4 linked regions of the Homo sapiens genome follow. The protein of the gene in region 2 interacts with the protein of the main gene of each other region in a pairwise test. Each region holds a gene or a part of one and is shown on either strand. Other genes may lie near its edges.

Region 1 (3,500 bases), on a different chromosome or scaffold from region 2:
TCTCCTTGCCAGGCTCTGCTGATAGCAGGGCCAGGATCATGGGCATGTAACTATGGCAGTCGCATGCTGAAATGCCCTGTACTTAATTTAAGGCTCTGCTGTTGCTGTTGTGAATAACCAGTAACTTTGGAACAAGGGACCCTGCATTCTCACTTGGCACTGAGCCCCGCAAACCATGCAGCTGGTCCTAGCTGGCAGCCAAGGCCCCTGAACTCACCTTGCTGGACCTCATTAATCCGGTTAATCAGGACCTCAACTCGGGGCTCTAGGCTTCCCACTGCACGGAGGAAAGGAGGTTGAGTTGACAGGGCAGGCAGAGTTGGGGCGGTTGCCAGCCTTGTGTCTCTGCTGCTTTCACGCAACACAGATCTATTGAGTACCTCCTGCAAGCAGGTGCTCTGTGGGGCCCTCACGGGGCTCACGTTCTGGGTGGGCAAGACTGGGAACAGACACAATAAGATACCGAATGGGGCTGCGGTAACCGTGTTCAAGAGAAATGAAGTAGGCCAAGGGAGGCTAAAGAGCAAAGGAGTGGGAAGTGCTCCTGAGATATGGGAAGGGACCTGAGGGCCCCAAATCAAGTGGTGGGGGGCAGGCCCTGCAGCAATTTGGGTGGGGTTGGGAGGTAGTCAGTGCAAAGACCCATCATGAGGTGGGAACATGGCTGGCAGGAGCCTAGCGAGCAAAGAGGGAGTAGCGGGTGAGGGGGAAGGAAGGGAAGTGAAGGCGGCAACTTCTGGATCTAATGGACTGCAGTGGAGCCAGATGGGTGACCAGCGAGAGGTTTGGGACAGGGTTTTGGGAAAACATTTTGCCTTCTATACCCTTTTGCTTCTTTAATTTTGAAACATGGGGCCCTATTTTTAGTTTAAGTAATTAAGTTTTAAAAGAAAGAGAAGGTGAAGAGGATTATTTCCCAAATTCGTACATTGTGGGGCCTGAAATTAAACCCACATCTGCCTGGCCCCAAACCTCAGGCTGTGCCTCACACAAAGGAGACACACGACCTTTCTGCAGCTTTTGCACCATTTCCATCAAGTCTTCAATTTTCTGTGAGGACGTGTCCTGCCCTGTGGAGACAAAACCAAACATTTCAGAATCAAGCAGGGCGAGAGGCCACCCCTGGGCTGAGACTGAGGCAGGCTGAGGGCAGGTCTCCAGCCAGAGTGGTGCCCCTTCTTCTTGTCCTGAGGTGGACAGTACACTAGATGAATCGGGCTCCTCCATGGTCAGCTTTTCCCTATAAGGTAAAATTATACCAGATATCCTCTTTGTAAAACTCTGGGTGAGGGCAGGGGTGCACTCTCACTGCTGAGGCTGTTCAAAGTAAGATCAAAGCTCCTGATATAATTCAAGAAAAAAAATGAGGGTATAAAAAACTGGAGCAAGGAGTCAAAAATCACTGTAACTGGCAGATGACATAATCTAGGAAGTTCTTAGAGAGTTTTCTACAAAACCATAAGGATTAGTAACAAAATGCATTAAGATGTTAGGTTAAAAACATATATAAATACAAACAAGCTTTCCTACATACAACCAATACTAACCCTGAAATTTCCCCATAAAATATTTCATGTTAATTTTTTATAATCACTATTGGAACCTATTTTTAACACTAAAATTAGTAGATCTAAGAAATTACTATTTATGGCATTAACATTGTGAAAGGAAAATAAATCTTTTTATAAATAAATCTTTGAAAATAAATCAATTCAAAGTCATCCCTCTGCTCACTGAGATAAATGCATATCTGATTTTGTAAAATAAATATCTGAAAATAATTCAGTCATCCTTCTTCTTACTCAGATAAATGCATATCTGATTGCCTCCTTTGGAAAGGCTAATCGGAAACTCAAAAGAATACAACCATTTGTCTTTTATCTACTTATGACCTTGAAGCAAACCCCCCTGCTTCAAGTTGTCTCATCATTGCTTTGAGTTGTCCCACCTTTCCAGATCGAACCAATGTTCATCTTACATATGTTGATTTGTGTCTCATGTCTCCCTAAAAAGCATAAAACCAACCTGTGCTCTGACCACCCTGCCACCCTGGGCACAGGTCATCAGGACCTCCTGAGGCCGTGTCACAGGCATGCATCCCTAACTTTGGTAAAATAAACTTCCTAAATTGACTGAGACCTGTCTCAGATTTTTGGGTTTCACATTTTGGCAACCACAAAGGGATTCTGAGTAGAGGTGCCCCTGACCTTTGACAAATATCCTATCAGTGCTTGCTAGCAGCTTGAGCTATCTTTATGGTTCAAACTAATATGACAAGTTGCTGAGTTCTGGAAGTCCCCCATCCAGGGAATCCCTCATTTCCCAAAATTCGCTCCAGATCCAAAGTTTATTTTTCTAAACAACTCTACTCTTTTTTTGGAGTTTTTCTTGCTTCCAACAAGGAAGGCAAGTTTTCCTGCTTCCATGAAAGTTCCTTTCTGGAGTTTGAACTCGCTCCCAACAGGGAAGACAAGTTTGAGGGTTTTTTTCCTGCTTCTAAGATGATAGAGAGCAGTCTTCAGCCTAAGACCCATCCCTAGGTAAGTAACTGAATTGGGGTTTGTCTTGGCTAAAGGTAAAATTAACAACCAGCTGGTCTTAATTTTTCCTTATCATTAGAGTGTCCAGTAACCATACAAGTTGTGTGATCATTTGTTTGTTTTGCTTAACTGGTATTTTTTTTTGTTGTTGTTTCTTTCTGTTTTTGTTGTTTTGGTCCTTTTCCTATTGGGTTTGGCCAATTCTGACTTGATCAAATCCAAAGGAAAGTTCCAAATTATGTGGAACAAGGCCTCTGAAGTGGCTAAATTCCCACCAGAAAAGGGGTGGTGGGGGAAGAAAAAACAGCCAGCAAAAGGAAAAAAGGGGGGGAAGATTTTTGATTTTGACTACTTAAGGGGATTTATTTACATAACAAGGCCACCTTTTTGCTAGCCAGGCCAAACTGAAAGAGAAAGGATTGTCACCCCAACTGCAGTTCCATAGCTAAGGTTCTGTCTTCTTTTTTCCATGACAGCCTGGGTTTGGTTCCTAAATCAAGACCTTTCTGGTTTGATACTTGGTACTTCTGAAATAGCAGATATTTGTCCTAGCTGAAATATGTTGATGAGATCTTAAAAATTTTTTAAAAAGAAACTCAAATGGTTAAAAGTCATCTTAATTAAAAGCTAACATCCAATGTGTGTGTGTGTGTGTGTGTGTGTGTGTGTGTGTGTGTGTGTGTGTGTGTGTGTATTTAAAAGGGCTTCATGATTTTTCTTTTTTCTCTCTCCTAGGACCTTGTGTTTTTTGGGCAAAAGTTTTTTTTCTTTTCAGTTGACTGAATGCTATTTTCTTCATATAGTTCTGCTGTCTCTCCTTTCCCTTGAACGCTCTGCTGCATGAGGGACCTAAAATAGTTTATAATAGCCTGAGGTTCCTTAAAGAAAATGGAGAAGGCACCAGACTCCCTTTTGTGGAGAAAATTGTTTTTCCTTGTGTATCCCCAAGAGTGTAAACAC
Region 2 (3,500 bases):
TGGTTTCTTGGCTAGTCTGTGGGTCTGCCACAACTCGGGTAAGGGCAGGATGTGGAGAATTCCCCTCCCTGGCATTTGAGGTGCTATCCCTCTCTGGAAAGGAGACCTTAAAGAGAGGAACTGAGGCTGGGCGCAGTGGCTCACGCCTGTAATCCCAGCACTTTGGGAGGCCAAGGTGGGTGGATCACGAGGTCAGGAGTTTGAGACCATCCTGGCCAGCATGGTGAAACCCCATTTCTACTAAAAATACAAAAATTAGCCAGGCATGGTGGCGGGCACCTATAGTCCCAGCTACTTGGGAGGCTGAGGCAGGAGAATCACTTGAACCCAGGAGGCGGAGTTTGCAGTGAGCCAAGATCGCGCCACTGCATTCTAGCCTGGGCAACAGAGCGAGACTCCATCTCAAAAAAAAAGAGAGAGAGAGAGAGGAACTGAGGGGGGCAGCTGTTCCAGGGACTTAGAAGCCCCTTGAGCCTTCCCCAAACCCCAACCTGTGAAGTTCTGAATATCATACACCTCAAAAGCCCACAGGTGCCCCAGGATGAAACACCCCGACTCCCTCACGCGGGCATGTGCACCCACAGCAGGCATGGCTCTGCTTCCACACGCTTCCCTTGGGCGTGACACCTGCCAAACAGCCAAATATGCCTAGGGTCTGAGGCCTCTCAGATCCCCTACCAGAGCCACTAGGCTCCCAGCTGTCCTTCCCTAAGACAAAGCCAGGTTTTAATTCCAGGCAGAGGGAGGGGCTGAAGTGGGGAGAACTGGTGCTGAGAGAGGGATAGGAAGCCTGTTGACATGTTCAGACGCAACTCCAGTAGAAGTGCTGGGCCTGGCAGGGGGCCAGGCCTGAGTCACAGCTGCTGGGCGTATCAACGTGGCATTGTACAGAGGCAGGAGAAGCCTGAGGCCGGAGGCCAGGGCACTGGGGTCCTGGACAATGGGCGGCTGGCTTCCTCACCAGCCGCCCCCTGCAAGGTCTCCTGCCAAGTGCCACTTTCCTTCTTCCTGGCCTCTCTCTCTAGAAATCATTCCGGTGTTGTCACAAAAATGCAGGGGTGGGGCTTGGGGATAGAGCAAAAGAAGTAGTGCCTGGAGGAGGGAGGGATGGCCTAAGAAGATAGTAGAATGTCCTGAAGGGGGCGGGAGGGAGGCCAGTGACCAAAACGAGGGACATTTAGGGGATTCCCTTCACAAGAAGCCAATTCAGCAGCCCCTTAACTCTCTATCTGGTGGCACATAGTTATTAACCCTGAGGACACTGGGAGAGAGTGGGAGCCACACCCCAAGGTCAGGAGAAGAAGTGAGGGAGGACCTAGGCAGTCTGGTCTCACTGCATTCCAGCTCTAGCCTCAGAAGACACAGCTCTCTCCTAGCCAGCAGAAGGTGGCAGTGTTAGAGCTTTGGGAAGAAAGGGGAGCCTTGGTGACCCCAAATAGCCTCCTTCTCAACTGCCCAGAACCTAGACCCCTTGAAATGAAGTCTAGCTCCCCTGAGCCAGACCTAAAGGAACTCATGTGTCCTATCTCCCTTCCATTTGTCCCCGTCAAATTCAGACCACTGTCCTTCTTGCTGCAACTTGAATGTAGTTCTCAAGAAAAGGCCACCCCTCAGCCTCTGCTTTTCTGACTGGACAAGCTTAGGGTCTCCTGTCCACTCTCCACTCTGCCCTCTACCATGACTCAGCGCCCCTGCCGGGCCTGGGATCTCAGCCAGAATTATTCCTGGCTTCAGCAGGCAGGATTCCGGCTTCCTCTCTCACAACTTGGGGGAGGCAGGGGTGAAGGGAGGACTCCCCTTCCCAAACTCTTTCCCCTTCCTTAAGGGATTGGTAGGGGCCAAGACCTCCTCCCAGCCCAGCCGCAGGTTGGGGGAGCCAGTATGGGTGCTGGAAGGGTAGAAGGTGGGCAGCCCAAGGTCACCGTGCCCCTCCCCCCGGTTCCAGGCACTGTTCTCTAATCCTGGCCAGCTCTAAGGTAACAGTTCTGCCTCTCCTAGGCCTTCGCCCTAGCCCCCAACCCGGGTCAATGGGAGCCATTCCTGTGCCGCATCTCCCGTTCCTACTCTATGACACAGCCCTTTCCACCGTCCAGAAGGGAGAGGCATCGAAAACGAGTTGCCCTTTCCTAGTAGCAATGAAAACAAAACATTTGCCAAGAGGGTAATGTCACAATTTAACCATTTCTAACAAACTTTCACGGGGAAATAGAGAAATGTGGTAGTATGTTTAATTCCACAGCTTGTGGGAAACATTTCTATTGAGAACAACATTAGCTATTAACTATATTCACATTATTTATATTTGATTTTACTATTAATAACTTGGTATTTTAGAAGACTGTTTTCTCACTTTGTGGGTCACTGTACTACTTTGGAACCTAAAAGGTCTCTGGAGACTTTCCGCTCCAATCCCTTTCTTTTACAGCTAAGGAAAGCCAGAAAGGGGAGGCGATTTGCTCAAGGTCACACAGCAATTTAGTGAAAGGGCCACACACAGAACTAAGGGCACCGAGGGCTAGGGTGTCCACTATATCACACTGCCTGTCATTTTGTTGGTGGACTACCTTGCCCCTTATTTATTTATTTATTATTAGTATTATTTTTTTGAGACGGAATCTTGCTCTGTCGCCCTGGCTGGAGTGCAGTGGCGTGATCTCGGCTCACTGCAACATCTGCCTCCTGGGTTCAAGCGATTTCTGGTTAATTTTTGTATTTTTAGTAGAGACAGGGTTTCACCATGTTGGCCAGGCTGGTCTCTTAACTCCTGACCTGAAGTGATCTGTTCCCCTCGGCTTCTCAAAGTGCTGGGATTACAGGCGTGAGCCACTGCGCCCGGCTTGCCTTGCCCCTTATTGAGGGATAAGAGACCCTGCAATCTTCCAGAGATCTCCTATAATATTAGAGTTCGGCCTATCAGTACACTGGGACCCCAAGGAGGTGAGAATGGAATGAACCCTGCCCTTGTGTCTGGGTCTCTGAAGACTTGGTCTTGGCTGCTGCAGCTGCTAGGGGTGGCGAGGGGCTGGGGAGGAGGGAAGCAAGGGGGAGGGGAGCAGAAAGCACAGTTGGTAGGTGAAGGGATCTACCAGTTGTCCATCCAGCTGTCCTGGGCTTCAGCGCAGACACTAAGCTACCGAATCACTGGGGGGTGGACCTGGAAGTGGGGGCAATGGGCACATCCATGGAAGAGTAAGTCTCAGACTCCTGGAGGCCAGGGGAAGTGCCAAGCAAGGGCACCAATAGTGGGAAGGCAATAGGGGGTCCTAGTGAGGAATTATTCTCTCTTTTGTTTCTCTTGGGCTTTTTAAGTACTTCTCACCCCCCAGGTTTAGCTGCACCCTTCTTCTTTCCCTTTGAATCAGAACGTGGATTTGGGCTAGGCTCAGTGGCTCTCAGCACTTTGGGAGGTCAAGGTGGGTGGACTGCTTAAGCCCCAGAGTTCAAGACCAGCCTGAGTAACATGGTGAAACCTGGTCTCTACTAAAAATAGAAAAATTAGC
Region 3 (3,500 bases), on a different chromosome or scaffold from region 2:
CATAGGTAAACATGCATCATAGGGGTTTGTTGTACAGATTATTTCATCACCCAGGTATTAAGCCTAGTATCCATTAGTTATTTTTCCTGATTCTCTTTCTCCTCCCACCTTCCAGCCTCCAATAGGCCCCTCTATTGTGTGTTGTTCCCCTCTATGTGACCATGTATTCTCATCATTTAGCTCCTACTTATCAGTAGGAATGTGTGACACTTGATTTTCTGTTCCTGCATTAGTTTGCTAAGGATAATGGCCTCCAGCTCCATACATGTCCCTGCAAAGAACATTATCTCATTCTTTTTTATGGCTGCATATTATTTCATGATGAATATGTGTCACACTTTCTTTATTCAGTCTATCATTGATGGGCATTTGGGTTGACTCCATGTCTTTGCTATTGTGAACAGTTTTGTAATGAACATATGTGAGTACGTGTCTTTATAATATAACAATTTCTATTCCTTTGCTTTTTGAATATTAAATTTTACTTATAACAAATATAATTTGTTAGGAATATTCCCAGTAATGGGATTGCTGGTCAAATAGTATTTCTGTCTTTAGGTCTCTGAGGAATTGCCACATGTCTTCAACAAAGGTTGAACTAATTTACACTTCCACCAGCAGTGTAAAAGCATTCCTTTTTCTCTGCAACCTTGCCAGCATCTGTTATTTTTTGACTTTTTAATAATAGCCATTCTGACTGGTGTGAGATGGCATCTCATCATGGTTTTGATGTGCATTTCTCTAAGGATCAGTGATGTTGAGCTTTTTTTCATATGCTTGTTGGCCACATGGATGTCTTCTTTTGATAAATGTCTGTTCATGTCCTTTGTCTTTTTAATGGGATATTTTTTCTTGTAAATTTGTTTAAGTTCCTTTAGATGCTGGATATTAGACTTTTGTTAGATGCGTACTTTGCAAAAATTTTCTCCCATTCTAAAGGTTGTCTGTTTACTCGATAGTTTCTTTTGCTGGAAGGACAAAAGTTTTAATTTGCTGAAGGGCAACTTACTTTTCTTTTGTTGTTAGTGGTGTCATATCTAAGAAACCATTGCTTAAACCAAAGTCACAAAAATTTATGCCTCTGTTTTCCTCTAAGAGTTTAATAGTGTTAGCCATTACATTTACGTATTTGATTTATTGTTACTTAATTTTTGTATATGGTATGAGGTAGGGTCCAAGTCTATTCTTTTCCATGTGAATATCCAGCTTTCCCAATACCATTTGTTGAAGAGACTATTCATTCCCCATTAAATAATCTTGGCACTGTTGCCTAAAGTCAATTGATCAAAAATGTGAGAACATGCACATCTGCTGGAGTCTCAATTCTATTTCATTTCTCTGTATGCCCATCTTTATGCCAGAGTGACAGTATCTCAATCACAGCAGCTTTGTGTTATGTTTTGAAATTGGAACATGTGAGCCCTGCAACTTTGTTCTTTTTCAAGACTGTTTTTGTTATTTGAGTCTCTTGAATTTCCATATGAATTTTAGGATGAACTTGTCAATTTCTACAAAATATATCAACTTGGATTCTAGTAGGAATTGTGTTAAATCTGTAGATCAATTAAGAAAGTATTGACATCTTAACAATATTAAAATTTCTGACCCATGAACATGGAATATCTTTTTTTAAGTCCTCAATTTCTTTCAACATGTTTTATTGTTTTCAGTGTATTAGTCTTGCATCTCCTACGTTAACTTTATTCCTAGGAATTTTATTCTTTTTGATACTGTTATAAATACAATTGCTTTCTGAATTTCATCTTCAGGTTGTTCATTGCAAGTAAAGAGAAGTATAATTGAGTTTTTCCATTGATTTTTGTATCCTGCAACTTCGCTAAACTTGGTATAAGTTCAAATAGTTTTTTAGTGGACCTCTTAGGATTTCCATTAAGTTGGTGCAATTACTTTTGCACCAGCCTAGTATACATAAAATCATGTCACCTGCAAACAGAAATAGTTTTACTTCTTCCTTTATTTATTTATTTATTTATTTATTTATTTTTGAGATGGAGTTTCGCTAATGTTGCCCAGCCTGGAGTGCAGTGGCATTATCTTGGCTCACTGCAACCTCTGCCTTCTGGTTTCAAGCGATTCTCCTGCCTCAGCCTCCTGAGTAGCTGGGATTACAGGCGCCCGCCACCATGCCTGGCTAATTTGTTGTATTTTTAGTAGAGACGGGATTTCACCATGTTGGCCAGGCTGGTCTTGAACTTCTGACCTCGTGATCCGCCTGCCTTGACCTCCCAAAGTGCTGCAATTACAGGGGTGAGCCACTGCGCCTGGCCTAAGTACTTCTTCCTTTCTAATGTGATAATGCACCTTCCCTTCCCTCCCCTCCCCTCCCTTCCCTTTTTCCTTCCTTCCATTCCCTTCCCTTTCTTTCTCAGGGAAGGTACAAAATGCCATGGGCATTACGGGCAGCAGTGGCAGGGCCAGAGAGGCTTCTCAGAAGAAACAGCCTTGAGGTGGATCTTTAAGGCTTTGTGAAGGCACCCCCTGCATGGAGGGAGGCATGTGCAGAGGTCCACATGTGGAAAGTTACAGCAGGAATATAAAGACGAGACCTGAACAGAGCCAGCATAGTGGCAAAGCGCTGCAGGGTATGGTAAGAGCAGCCACTCATGAGGCTTTGCTGGAGTGTTGAGCACACAAAGCATGGGAGGGGCTGAGTGGGGCTGAAGACAAGGGTCTGTGCTCCAGTTAGGATCACCAGAGACAAGACTCAGACCATGCTGGAGGCGATGAGAATGATGGCTCCTCCTGCTGCATCATGCTTGTCACACACACAGGGAGCAAGGCAGGCTCCGCTACCCACAGTTCAGGGTGCAGAAGAGGCGCAGGCCTATGAAGTGCCAAACTCAGGTCATGCAGTCGGGGTGGCCAAGTCCAGATCTGAACCAGGTTACCCTCACTTCCAAGACTCCTGTCCTTATTTATTTCTCAGTTTCCTTCCTCCTATAAAACCAAGAGGTTGGATGGAATAATCTTTGAAGTTCCTTATACTTTAAAATTCAATTCAGCAGGTAGTGGGGTCATTAAAGGCTCTGCATGAGAGTGGCCCAGGCGCTGTGCCTAGAAAGCTGACTCCTGGAATAGCAGGTGGAGTGGGAGTGAACATGGGGCTGGGGAGACCCCTGAGGACTCAGGAGGCCCTCCCAACATGGGTACACCACCCTTAGGGAAATACACCACCTGCAAGTCTGAATAGCCAAAGTAACACAGACACAAATGATTCCTCCAGTGGCACTTCTCTCAAGGTCTCGGTAAGACCTGTCTTGAAGCCCTGGCTACCAGTCCAGACCTCACCAACATTTGAGCAAACATCCTTTAGCGCCCCCAAACCACAGAACCTCTAGTAACTCTCCAGCACTGACTGCTTGCTGTGTTTAGGTCTCGTCTTTATACTCCTGTAGTAACTTGGATAACTTTTAGCTGACACAGGTGGGCAAAACAGGCATTTTCCTGAAATTCACTTGGAGCCACCATTTCCAAACACA
Region 4 (3,500 bases), on a different chromosome or scaffold from region 2:
TGTTAATAACAGCAGAATATTGAATACAACCTAAAACTGGGTAATAAATACATAGAATATTTTTTATTCACAGGGTGGAATACTGTAAAGAAAAAAACCCAAATATAAAAACAGCACCATATAAAAGTTTTAAAATAGATGAGGTCTAGCTTGTTGCCCAGTCTGGAGTGCAGTGCAGTGACTATTCACAGGCACTATCATTGCATACTACAGTGTCAGATCTCCCGGGCTCAAGCCATCCTCCTGCCTCAGCCTCCTGAGTGGCTGAGACTGCATGCCCGTGCCACCATCCCTGGTTTGTAGGACATTCTTATTATATGCCATGATATGCCATTTTAATTTAAAAATTCACCAAGGAGAAACATATGTTAAGGAGTACATATGAAAGAGTATAAAAAATGAACCAGAAGGGGCTGGGTGCAGTGGCTCACACCTGTAATCCCAGCTACTTGGGAGGCTGAGGCAGAAGAATCACTGGAACCTAGGAGGTGAAGGCTGCAGTGAGCAGAGATCACACCACTACACTCCAGCCTGGGTGACAGAGGGAGACTTTGTCTCAAAAAAAAAAAAAAGGAAACTTGGAGACTTAACCTCATAATAATGGATGTTTCTAGGGTTGAGAGGGACATGACAGAGGAAACGATGTTGGTGATGGTACTCAAGGCACTTCCACTACCTCAGTGACAGGTCTTTTATTAAAAAAAAAAAAAAAAGAGATTGAGCCAGGCACAGGTGGCTCATGCCTGTGAGCTACTTGGGAGGCTGAGGTGGGAGGATTTCTTGAGCCCAGGAGTTCGAGGTTGCAGTGAGCTATGATTGTGCCACTGCACTCCTACCTGGGTGACAGAGTGAAACCCTTCTCTCTAAAAGAAAAAAAAAATTGAAAAACAATGCCAATTCTCTAGAAGGTAAGTTAGTTATTGTTATACTGCTACTTGCCCGTTTCTGTTTTTCCCAAAATGTTAAACCCTTTGGTAAGTATAGTACTAGTAGTTTTACTACTGTAGCATTTAAACATGTAATCTACTATATCAGAAAAATCTTCACTATACCTGAATATAAAATATTTGCATGTAAAAAAACAAAAGTACTAGAAATAACACATGAATGAATTTTTATATAATATAGAGGAATAATATGGCATTTATAAAATTTGGTAAGCATGATAAGAAACCATGCAAAAGTTGGCTAGATCACACTATTAAAACAAACATTCATCTGTATGGCAAACACATATAAGTGAGGTTAAAATAATAAACTGGGCCGGGTGGAGTGGCTCATGCCTGTAATCCCAACACTTCTGGAAACTGAGGAGGATCATCTGAGCCCAAGAGTTCAAGACGAGCCTGGGCAACATGGCGAGACCCTGTCTCTACAAAAAAATTTTAAAAATCAGCTGAGTGTGGTCTCACTAGCTTATGGTCCCAGCTACTCGGGAGACTGAGATGGGAGGATCGCTTGAGAGTTCAAGGCTGTAGTGAGCTATAATTGAGCCACTGCACTCCAGCCTGGGCGACAGTGAGACCCTGTCAAGAATACTCCAATACAAAAGTACAAAGAAAGATAGATGAAATCATGTAAAAAAAAATGGTAAAGTTCAATGGTAATAATAGGAATTCAAGCAGGTGTAAAATGAAAAAAGACTATCCCAATGAAGTCAGGGTATGGGAAACAATGTCACTGACTCTCCGGGATTGTCAACAATCACAATTTGGGAATATTGGCATCACTGTCAAAATGTGCATACTTTTAAACCTATCATTCTTATGAGCGGGAATTTATCCTGATGAAATAACTAGACAAATATGCGACTATTCATTAGAGTGTTTTATATAAATGGTGCTCTTCCAACCTGGGCCCATGTGTTCCTGAGCCTACCTGACAGGGCATGTGGCTTGATCTCGGCTCACTGCAGCCTCCACCTCCCAGGTTCAAGTGATTCTCCTGCCCTCAGCCTCCTGAGCAGCTGGGATTATAGGCGCACACCAGTACACCTGACTAAATCTGTCTTTTTAGTAGAGATGGGGTTTCACCATGTTGGCCAGGCTGGTCTCGGAACTCCCAACCTCAGGTGATCCACCCGCCTCGGTGTCTCAAAGTACTAGGATTATAGGCGTGAGCCATGGCGCCCGGCCGCAAGGATAGTTTTAAGAGAGTCAATTTCTAGCTCTTCAACTTCCATGTGTACTCTTTCTTAAAAATTATATGTCTGTGAATGCCTTTGTGGTCAAGGCTTAGGCTGGTTTTCAGGAATCACTCCACCTGTCCTTTCTAATTCCCCTTTCACAATTATTTATCTACTTTACAAAAGAAAGGCGTATCTCCTAACCAGCCAAATCCTACTGTGGTGTATTGCCATGAGGCAAAAAAAAAAAAAAAAAAAAACCCAGAGAAGAGGAGAGGCAAACAAAATGCTGGTGTCTGTGGTGAATGTAAATGCCTCTAATAAAAATCCAAATTTTTAGCTTTCATAAAATTACATTGATAGTGGATGATCATTACAAATAATTTTTGATGATACATCACTGTGATTTTTTGTCATGTAATTAAGAAGGAATCAAAATAATTGAGTGGCACTATTGTAATATATCTTCTATTCCCAAACTCAAAGTATTTCTATTATTTTTAATTTGCTATCATAAAGAATATTGGGGTTTTTCCATTTTTATCAACTATAAAAAAAAATTAGGGATAGAAAAGGAACAGTTTCATTCACGCAGTAAATAATGTCGACCCAAAGATATGTGAATGTATAGGGAAAAAATCTCATCTTTCTTATTAAAGTCGTTGTAAGTAAACATAAAAAGTAATTATTATTATTATTTTAATATTTGTTTATTATTATTATATTTTAAGTTTTAGGGTACATGTGCACAACATGCAGGTTTGTTACATATGTATACATGTGCCATGTTGGTGTGCTGCACCCATTAACTCGTCATTTAGCATTAGGTATAAAAAAAAAAAGTAATTTTTAATTAAAATTTGTAACATTTGTTTTGATCAATTATATATTCTAATAATTGTGAAAACTCAATATAGAAGATATTTTCATCCTTTGAGATTTAATAAAAAGCTTAAAAATTCAATTTATAGAAAATAGGGCCTAGCTTGTTGCCCCTGTCATTTTTGTTGCAGATAAGCATGATAAGCTACTCAATAAAATATTTGAAAATATGTGTAATAAAAATATATCATCTCAGGGAGAAGTTCAAACAAACAAACAAAATATATCATCTTATGCTGAAATTCTGTAGAAGTACAACAAAGGAATTCAAGGAGGAAAGGGAAATGATATATAATTTTTGCCTGTTAAAGAAGAGCTGAGCTGTATATAAATGATGGTGGGTATGAAAAAGCAATAATATTTATACTTCATTTGATACATTTAAGGCTGATTTAAAAGTTTTATTTTAAAATGTCAATATTTACAGCCCCCCTCCCCCAAGAAATTACATGCTTTGCAACTACAATGAAAGATTTAGATATCAACTTTAAAA

The links. Proteins that work in one complex are often made in the same cells at the same time.
Region 1: the proteins of LMNA (region 2) and SYCE1 interact in binary tests that used the Homo sapiens proteins (3 or more experiments, as listed by UniProt).
Region 3: the proteins of LMNA (region 2) and FAM3B interact in binary tests that used the Homo sapiens proteins (3 or more experiments, as listed by UniProt).
Region 4: the proteins of LMNA (region 2) and TUT7 interact in binary tests that used the Homo sapiens proteins (3 or more experiments, as listed by UniProt).

Annotation. Positions count from the first base shown.
Region 1 is NC_000010.11:133,559,084-133,562,583, forward strand, and holds part of SYCE1 (synaptonemal complex central element protein 1), read right to left. Parts: intron 1,071-3,500; coding exon 1,008-1,070; intron 278-1,007; coding exon 218-277; intron 1-217. UniProt on the Homo sapiens protein: Major component of the transverse central element of synaptonemal complexes (SCS), formed between homologous chromosomes during meiotic prophase. Requires SYCP1 in order to be incorporated into the central element.
Region 2 is NC_000001.11:156,121,211-156,124,710, reverse strand, and holds part of LMNA (lamin), read right to left. Parts: intron 1-3,500.
Region 3 is NC_000021.9:41,351,301-41,354,800, reverse strand, and holds part of FAM3B (protein FAM3B isoform a precursor), read right to left. Parts: intron 1-3,500. UniProt on the Homo sapiens protein: Induces apoptosis of alpha and beta cells in a dose- and time-dependent manner.
Region 4 is NC_000009.12:86,291,911-86,295,410, forward strand, and holds part of TUT7 (terminal uridylyltransferase 7), read right to left. Parts: exon of another isoform or gene 3,388-3,500; intron 1-3,387. UniProt on the Homo sapiens protein: Uridylyltransferase that mediates the terminal uridylation of mRNAs with short (less than 25 nucleotides) poly(A) tails, hence facilitating global mRNA decay. Essential for both oocyte maturation and fertility.